Linked DNA regions of Homo sapiens. The protein of the gene in region 1 purifies or fractionates together with the protein of each later gene. This does not show direct contact. Each region holds a gene or a part of one and is shown in the gene's direction. Other genes may lie near its edges.

Region 1 (5,162 bases):
ATTTCAGGTGTGAGCCACAGTGCCTGGCCTGAAGCAATTGTTTAAAGTCCAAAGTCCTAAAGGAAAACTACTTGGAGAGGGGCATGGGGGCTTGTGCTTGTAGTTCTAGCTACTTGGGAGGCTGAGGGAGGAGGATCATTTGAGCCCAGGCCCAGGAGTTCAAGTCTATCCTGGGGAACACAGAGAGACCCTTGTCTCTTGGGAAAGAAAGCAAGCAAGCTGCTTGGAACAGTTCACATAGAAGTGAGTTGACTATACATACTAAGGTGCATGTGTGCAGTATAGAGTTGTACAGAATGAGGAAGGCCACTAAGAACTGACATGTATGATTTCTTAGATATTACGTTAAGTGAAACAAGCAAGTTGTCAAGCACACAAGACAAAGGAAGGCCAAGGCCTGACTGATTTAGCCAGTAAGAATAGAATGAGCCACTTGTAGATTTAGAAGAGTAGCCAAGGATGGCAGCTCCTCGGGTCTTTGTTTCACATGGCAAAAAGGATAATGTGGAAACAAATGGAGCTGGATGGCTGCAATGCAAGTCACAGGTACACTGTTGTGGAGAAGCCAGTTCTAGACCACCGCTAAACAGTCTTCTAGTCTGCAGTTATACCCTGAGAGCAGTACAATAGAAAACCTCATCAGAACCTAGGGGATACGAAGCTGTCTTGGCCGGGTGCCATGCCAGTAATCCCAGCACTTTGGGAAGCCAAGGTGGACAGATCACCTGAGGTCAGGAGTTTGAGACCAGCCTGGCCAACATGGCAAAACCCCCGTCTCTACTAAAAATACAAAAATTAGCCAGGCATGGTGGCAGCTGCCTGTAATCCAGGCTACTCTGGAGGCCTAGGCATAAGAATCACTTGAACCCGGAAGACAAAAGTTGCTTTGAGCCAAGATCGTGCTACTGCACTCCAGCCTGGCGGACAGGGCGAGACTCTGTCTCCAAAAAAAATATAAAAAAGAAGAAGTTGTCTCGTGACAGCCTCCCAGGGGAGATAGGGAGGTGAGTGGGAGATGGCTGGGCGGCAGCTCTGCCCACACCTGCCATCTCCTCCTTTTTCAGGAGGATCACAAAGCATTTTGCCAGGACAGATCAGCTGTGGTTCAGGCCTTGGCCTGTGTGGCCTATATGGATATAGGCAAGGTCACCAGGGCAGCATGGTGGAGCTGTTCACCTAAACAATGTATATTGTAGTTTACATTTTATGCAAGAAAGTGTGTGTATGTATATATATTTATATATTTGTTAATTTTTTGGTACGGGAGGAATAAACCAGAAAGAATGAAAGTGGAAACTATGGGGTTCTTTGGGAATAGGGTGGAGGTTGAGGATGAGAGGACTTCTGATTGTAACCTTTTATTGACTTTATAATACAGTGTAACTTTTTTGACTTTTGAACAATGTAAATATTTTATGCAAACTTTAAATTGTAATTAAGTGGAAATAAACAATGTAACTACATGTGAAATTGGTAACAGAACACAGAGGAAAGAATTAATTTAAGTACTTGTTGCTTGAGCCCAGCCTGGGTAGCGTAGCAAGACCCCCATCTCTATAAAAAATTAAAAAATTAGCTGGGTATGGTGGCACACACCTGTAGTCCTAGTTACTCAGGAGGCTGAGGCAGGAGGATTGCTTGAGCCCAGGAGTTCAAGGCTGAAGTAGCTATGATCCTGCCAGTGCACTCCAACCTGGGCAACAGAGCAAAACCCTGTCTCCAAAAAAAAAAAAAAAAACAAATCTGTAACCTGAACACAGCATTCTGACTGTGCATCCTTAGTGGGATTTAAAGTATGACAAAATAAAGGACTAAAGTGGTAACATCAAGTTTACTTAGTAGGTTCATTGTTAATAGTAATCTGTTATTATAATTTTGGAACTAGTTTATGTGTATTGTAGGATAAAACAAATTTATTCATGTTATTAAGGACTAAAATTTTCAATATAGGAAGAGTTTTAAATTATTAATTCATTAATTTTTTCTTATACAGGGTCTTGCTTTGTCATCCAGGCTGGAGTGCAGTGCTGCTGTCACAGCTCACTGCAGCCTCAATTGCCTGGGCTCAAGTGATCCTCCCACTTCAGCCTCCCACGTAACTGGGACCCAGCCACACGCCATCATGCCTGGCTAATTTTAAAGTTTTTTTGTAGAGATTAGCTCTCCCTGTGTTGCCCAGGCTGGTCTCGAACTCCTAGGCTCAAGTGATCTTCTCGCCTTGGCCTCCCAAAGTGCTGGGATTACAGACGTGAGCCACTGTGCCTGGCCTAAGAGAGAAAATATTAACAATTAAAAACAAAAGGTTAGTCCTCACGTAGGAAATAGCAAAACAAAAACAAAGGAAAACCCCTATTATGTTTTGGAAATAACAGCAAATTCATAATAAAGGGTCTCAGAAACAGTGACAACTCAGTAGTAGTGAGCATATTTAGTGCCCACATCTTGGATACTAAATACCATTATCTACTGGCAACTAGGGCTGTTTAGTGAAATTGCTGATTTCAGGGCTATGGCAGGGGAAGTACAAGGTGAGCCTAGAACAATTTGTGCCAGATAGCACACAAATTCTCAAAGATCAATGAGGTCACATCAAAAGGACATAGGAGAGCTGGTCATGGTAGCATGTGCCTATAGTCCCAGATACTCAGGAGGCTGAGGCAGGATCCCTTGAGCCCAGGAGTTGGAGGCTGCATTGACCTATGATTGCACCACAATAAAATAGGAAGGAAGGGAAGGAGGGAGATAGGAACTGGCTTGAAAGGACTCTGGCTGACTGAATTAGAGCATTAAAAAGAATAATGACAGTAATAGATTATAGTGTATAAAAAAAAGGATTCCTGGGACCATAATGACATAAAAAATAAAAGAGGGGTTCATTTTTAAAAATCAGAATACCAGCTAATTAAAGTAGAATGATAGAGTTAGAAACCACTAATTTTCAACCTGTAATGTAATAATTTATTCAAGCAAGGTGCATCAATGAATGCAAAAATCATTAGATGGAATAATTTTGGGAAACAAGATTCACGTGGTCTCAATTTATCATCCCATAGATACTTATTAATTCTGTAACAAAACTGCACATCTATGATGAAGTGGTCTGGTGGTTTCCACCTTCACCCAGTGATTAAGCTCAGCATTACCACTGGCAGACGACCTGAGTTGCCATGCCGTGTTGTGCAGTAAGATGTATACATTATCACCTATTCATGCCCAAAATGTTTGACATGAATTAAATCTTGAGGAAATATGCAAATCCAGAATGTGAGACATTTTAAAAGGAACTGCCTCGATGCTTAAAAAAAAAAAGTCACTGGTGACAGTGTTTCTTATGTGAGAATGGTGTTATGGATAGGTACGAAAACGTACTTTTTAGAATATGCTTCTGAAACATTTAGCAGGGATGTGCTGTGATATCTGCAAATCGCTTTCAAATGGCATAGCAAAAATTGTGTGTGAGTATACACAGAGAGGGAGAGGAGGGAAACGTGGCACATGTTCATGATTGATCAGTCTACATGAAGGATATATAGAGGATCATTCTTTCAGTTTTTCTGTAGATTTGGAATTTTTTGAAATAAATAAAACATTTGAGGCAAAAATGTCACTGGTACATGGTACCAATGGCTCATTTTTAGTCACCTTACTCTTAAATGTGCTTCGCTCTCCCAGTTTTCTGAGAATTTATTTCAAAAGGCTAGAAATTGTGCATTATTTCAGTTTTTACTCGTTTCCTCTTTCTTCCCTTCAAAGTATTTTAGGATTAAATTGTGTAGACTGGGCACAGTGGCTCACACCTGTAGTTTCAGCAGTTTTGGAGGCTGAGGCAGACAGATTGCTTGAGCCCAGCAGTTTGAGACCAGCTGGGCAACATGGCGAAACCTCGCCTCCACAAAAAAACAGAGAAACTGGCTGGGCGCAGTGGCTCATGCCTGTAGTCCCAGCACTTTGGGAGGCTGAGGCGGGTGGATCACTTGAGGCCAGGAGTTTGAGACCAGCCTAGCCAACATGGTAAAACTCTGTCTCTATTAAAAATACAAAAATTAGCTGGGCGTGGTGGCACATGCCTGTAGTCTCAGCTACCCAGGAGGCTGAGACACGAGAATTGCCTAAACCCGGAAGGTAGACGTTGCAGTGAGCAGACATTGCACCACTGCACTCCAGCCTGGGCGACAGAATGAGACTCTGTCTCAAAAAAAAAAAAAAAAAAAAAAAAAAAAAAGGAGAAATTACCCAGGCATGGTGGCATACACCTATAGTTTCAGCTACTAGGGAGGTTGAGGTGGGAGGATCACTTGAGCCCAGGATGTCACGGCTGCAGTGAGCTTTGATAGTGCCACTGCACTCCAGCCTGGGCAACAGAGTTGAGACCCGGTCTTCAAAGAAAAAAAGAGATTAAATTGTGGTTTATTTTGCCAATTATACCATGCATATGAAAAAAACGTACTTTCGCTTTTAGAATTTTTGTCACAGAACTCTTAAATAAAGTCAGTTGACATATCTTTTTTTTTTTTTTTTTTTTTTTTTGAGACAGAGTCTTTCTCTGTCACCCAGACTGGAGTGCAGTGGTGCGATCTCAGCTCACTGCAGCCTCTGCCTCCCGGGTTCCAGCGATTCTCCTGCCTCAGGCGCACACCACCATGCCCGGGGAATTTATGTATTTTTAGTAGAGATGGGGTTTCACCATGTTGGTCAGGCTGGTCTCGAACTCCTGACCTCAGGTGATCCGCCCACCTCGGCCTCCCAAAGTGTTGGGATTACAGGCGTGAGCCACTGCGCCTGGCCTTTTTTTTTTTTCTTTTTTTTTCTTTTTTTTTTGAGACAGGGTCTCACTGTGTTGCCCAGGCTGGAGTGCAATGGCGTTAATATCGCTCATTACCTCAAACTTCTGGGCTCAAGCAATCCTTCCTCCTCAGCTCCTCAAGTAACTGGGACTATAGGTGTACACCACCAAGCTTGGCTAATTTTTCATTTTTCATAGAGATAGGGTCTCCCAATGTTACCCAAGCTGGTCTGAAACTCTTAAGCTCAAGCGATCTTCTTGCCTTGGCCTCCGAAAGTGCTGGGATTATAGGCGTGAGCCACTGTGCCCCGCCAATTTATATATCTTCTTACATGATACATCTTATTATCAATTGACAGCTGTTCTTTTACTTGAATTT
Region 2 (3,500 bases), on another chromosome or scaffold:
TGTGAGTCACTATGCCTGGCCTATTTCTTGAGGTGTTTTTTCTCCCCCAGTTTTAGACGTTGTCTATACTTTCTACTATGAACATTGAGGATTTGGTGTTGTAGACCTTATTCCAACACTCATAATTTCTACTCCCGTTCATTTGCTAGGATGTGTTTAATTTTATAAAAAGGGAAGGAATCAATAAATAAGTTACTCTGTACTCATTCACCTGTTGAGTCTTGGACTTTAGAAATACTGATGTATCTCATCCTTTTAAAAAGATTATGTGGAATTTGTTTCCCAATTTATTTAACCAATCACCTATTGATGGCCTTTTGGGTTATATCTCATTTTTCAGTGTGTGTCTTAAATCTGTGTATCTCAAAACAATATATAGTATTGCATACTTTTTTTTTCCTTTTTTTTTTTTTTTGAGACAGCAACTTGCTGTGTGTTTCCCTGGCTGGAGTGTAGTGGTACAATCATAGCTCACTGAAGCCTTGACCTCCTGGTCTCAAGCATTCCATCTGCTTCAGCCTCCCAACCAGCTAGGAGTACAGGTGCATGCCACCGTGCCCCACTAAATTTGTTGTTCTTCTTGTAGAGACAGGGTCTCACTCTGTTGACTAGACTGGTCTTCAACTCCTGGGCTCAAGTGAACCTTCCACCTTAGCCTCCCAAAGTGCTGAGATTACAGGTGTGAGCCCCTGTACTCAGCCAGTATTGCATACTTTAAGCTATATATGTATATTTGGCATATTCTTCTGCAACTTGTTATTCTTTTTTTTTTATTTTATTTTTTTTTTTGAGACAAGGTCCCACTCTGTCGCACAGGCTGGAGTGCAGTGGCGTGATCTCGGCTCACTGCAACCTCCACCTCCCCAGGCTCAAGCAGTTCTCCTGCCGCAGCCTCTCAACTGCTGACCTCAACTGATCTGCCCACCTCGGCCTCCCAAAGTGCTGAGATTACAGGCTTGAGCCACCACACCCAGCCTGCAACTTGTTATTCTGAGTCAACATTATTTCCGAAATCCTCTATATCGTATGATACATGTAGATCCAGTTGATTCATGCTCGTTGATTATTAGATTCCATTATATGACTACACTGAAATTTTCTATCCAAACTCTCGTTGATAAACATTTAGGCTGCTTTTTAATGTTTTCCTTTAATACATTCCTTCTCTGGATAGTCATCTGTGAGTCATCTTGTATGCAGGTTTGAGTTTCTCTAGAGAATGTATCTATAATTGAAACAAATTATGAATTGATGCTTCAGAGTATCACAACCATCAGCTTTACCAGATATGGTCAAATTGCTCTCCAGAATGATTGGACCAGTTTACTGTCCCACCACATTCTCAACATCATTTGCATTGTCAGACTTTAAAACGTTTGTCAATTACGTAGATTGAAAATGGTATGTACTTATTGTTTCAATTAACATTTCTCTGATTACTGGTAAAGTTCATCATCTTTTCTTACACTTACTGGCTTCTTAGATTTTCTCCTGTTTTCTGTTGGATTACGTACTTTTTTTGTCCTATTGATTTATTGGACTTATTCATACTTTTTGTTTTTTTTAATAGAGACAAGGTTTCACTTTGTTGTCCAGTCTGGTATCAAACTCCTGGCCTTAAGCAATCCTCCAGCATCGGCCTCCCAAAGAGCTGGGATTACAGGTGTGAACCACAGCAACCAGCCAGAATTCTTTTATATTCTGGATATTGATCCTTTGTCAGAAATACACATTGCATATATCATTTCCCAGTCTTTGGCAAGGCTTTTAGTTTATTTATGGTATCTTTGAGGTACTGAAAGTTAAATTTTAATATGATTGAATTTGTTAATTTTTTTGAAATCTTTAAAGGCTTCCTTTTTATGTGCTTTCCTGTTTCTGGATTACAAAGAATTCTGTACTTGTAAAATTTTTAAAATATTGATTTTAATACTTAGATCTTTATTCCATCAACAAGTTTTTCCTTTGTTGTATGATATGAGGATCCAGTATTTTTTTTTTTTTTCAATAGAGACAGGGTCTTTCTATATTGGCCAGGCTGGTCTTGAACTCCTGGCCTCAAGCCATCCTCCTGCCTCAGTCTCCCAAAGTGCTTGGATTACAGGCATGAGACACTGTGCCTGGCTAAGATTGAGTATTTTTTCTTCAGTTGTCCCAGTACTATTAATAGTCTGTCCTTTTCCCAATGAGTTGTAATGCCAAATTCCCCATACCCTTGCAATACCAAGTTCCAGTATTGGAACTTGGGTCCAATTTCTGGGCACACTATTCTGTTCCAGTGGTGGGTTTGTTTGTTTTTTTTCCCATTGCTGTTGAAATATTACAGTGACTTTAAGAAGTCTTAAAATCTGTCAACTTCCATACACCTTGTTTTTCTTCTTCAAAATCATTTTGGCTACTCTATGAGACAGTTGGGAAATGTGAATCAGGAAAATTTGAATAGGAACTAGATATTAGATGCTACTGTGGCATTATTGTTAATTTTGTTAGGTGTCAAAATGGCATGGTTATGTAAGAATGTCTGTATTTTAGAGATGCTTACTTAAGTACGTTGGAGTGAAATGACATGAAGTCTGGGGTTTTAAAATATTTTAGGCAACAAAAAGGAGAGGTTGGATGAATGAAGTAAGTGTGGCAAAATATTGGTCACTGTTGAATCTGGGTGATGGAGTAGAGGGCTTTATGAAATTACTCTATTTTTTATTATGTGGGAAAATGTTAAGAATTTTAAAATCAACTGTTCTTAGCTCCTTCCTTTTTTGAGACGGAGTCTCCCTCTGTCGCCAGGCTGGAGTGCAATGGCGCGATCTCGGCTCACTGCAACCCCCGCCTCCCAGGTTCAAGCAGTTCTCCTGCCTCAGCCTCCCGAGTAGCTGGGATTACAGACACATGCCACCACACCCAGCTAATTTTTTGTATTTTTAGTAGAGACGGGGTTTCCATGTTGACCAGGATGGTCTCTATCTCCTGACCTCAAGTGATCTGCCTGCCTTGGCCTCCCAAAGTGCTGGGATTACAGGTGTGAGCCACCGCACCTGGCCTCTTTTATTTTTGAATGGTACTCTTTGTGTATATGCACCACATTTTCTTTATTCATTCATTTGTTGACAGACGCATAGATTGCCTCCAAATCTTGGCTATTCTGAATAGTGCTGCAATAAACATGGGAGTTCAGATATCTCTTGGACATACAGATTCTGTTGGCATATATACATAGCAATGGAATTGCTAGATCAAATGATAGTTCTATTTTTAGTTTTTTGAGGAACCTCCAAACTGTCCTCCATAGTGGTTGTACTAATTTACATTCCCACCAACAATGTACCTAGGGTTCCCTTTTCTCCACATCCCTCACCAGGATTCATCCTTATCTTTTGGATAAAAGCCATTTAAACTTAGGTGAGATGCTCTCTCATTGTAGGTTTTTTCTTTTTTTTTTTTTTTTTTTTTTTTGAGACGGAGTCTTGCTCTGTCACCCAGGCTGGAGTGCAGTGGCGCAA

What was found. The genes of interacting proteins can lie anywhere in the genome.
Region 2: the proteins of CCNB2 (region 1) and CDK7 fractionate together in Homo sapiens (co-fractionation; one large-scale study listed by BioGRID). This does not show direct contact.

What each region holds. Positions count from the first base shown.
Region 1 is NC_000015.10:59,117,740-59,122,901, forward strand, and holds part of CCNB2 (G2/mitotic-specific cyclin-B2), read left to right. Parts: intron 1-5,162. UniProt on the Homo sapiens protein: Essential for the control of the cell cycle at the G2/M (mitosis) transition.
Region 2 is NC_000005.10:69,237,886-69,241,385, forward strand, and holds part of CDK7 (cyclin-dependent kinase 7), read left to right. Parts: intron 1-3,500. UniProt on the Homo sapiens protein: Serine/threonine kinase involved in cell cycle control and in RNA polymerase II-mediated RNA transcription. Cyclin-dependent kinases (CDKs) are activated by the binding to a cyclin and mediate the progression through the cell cycle.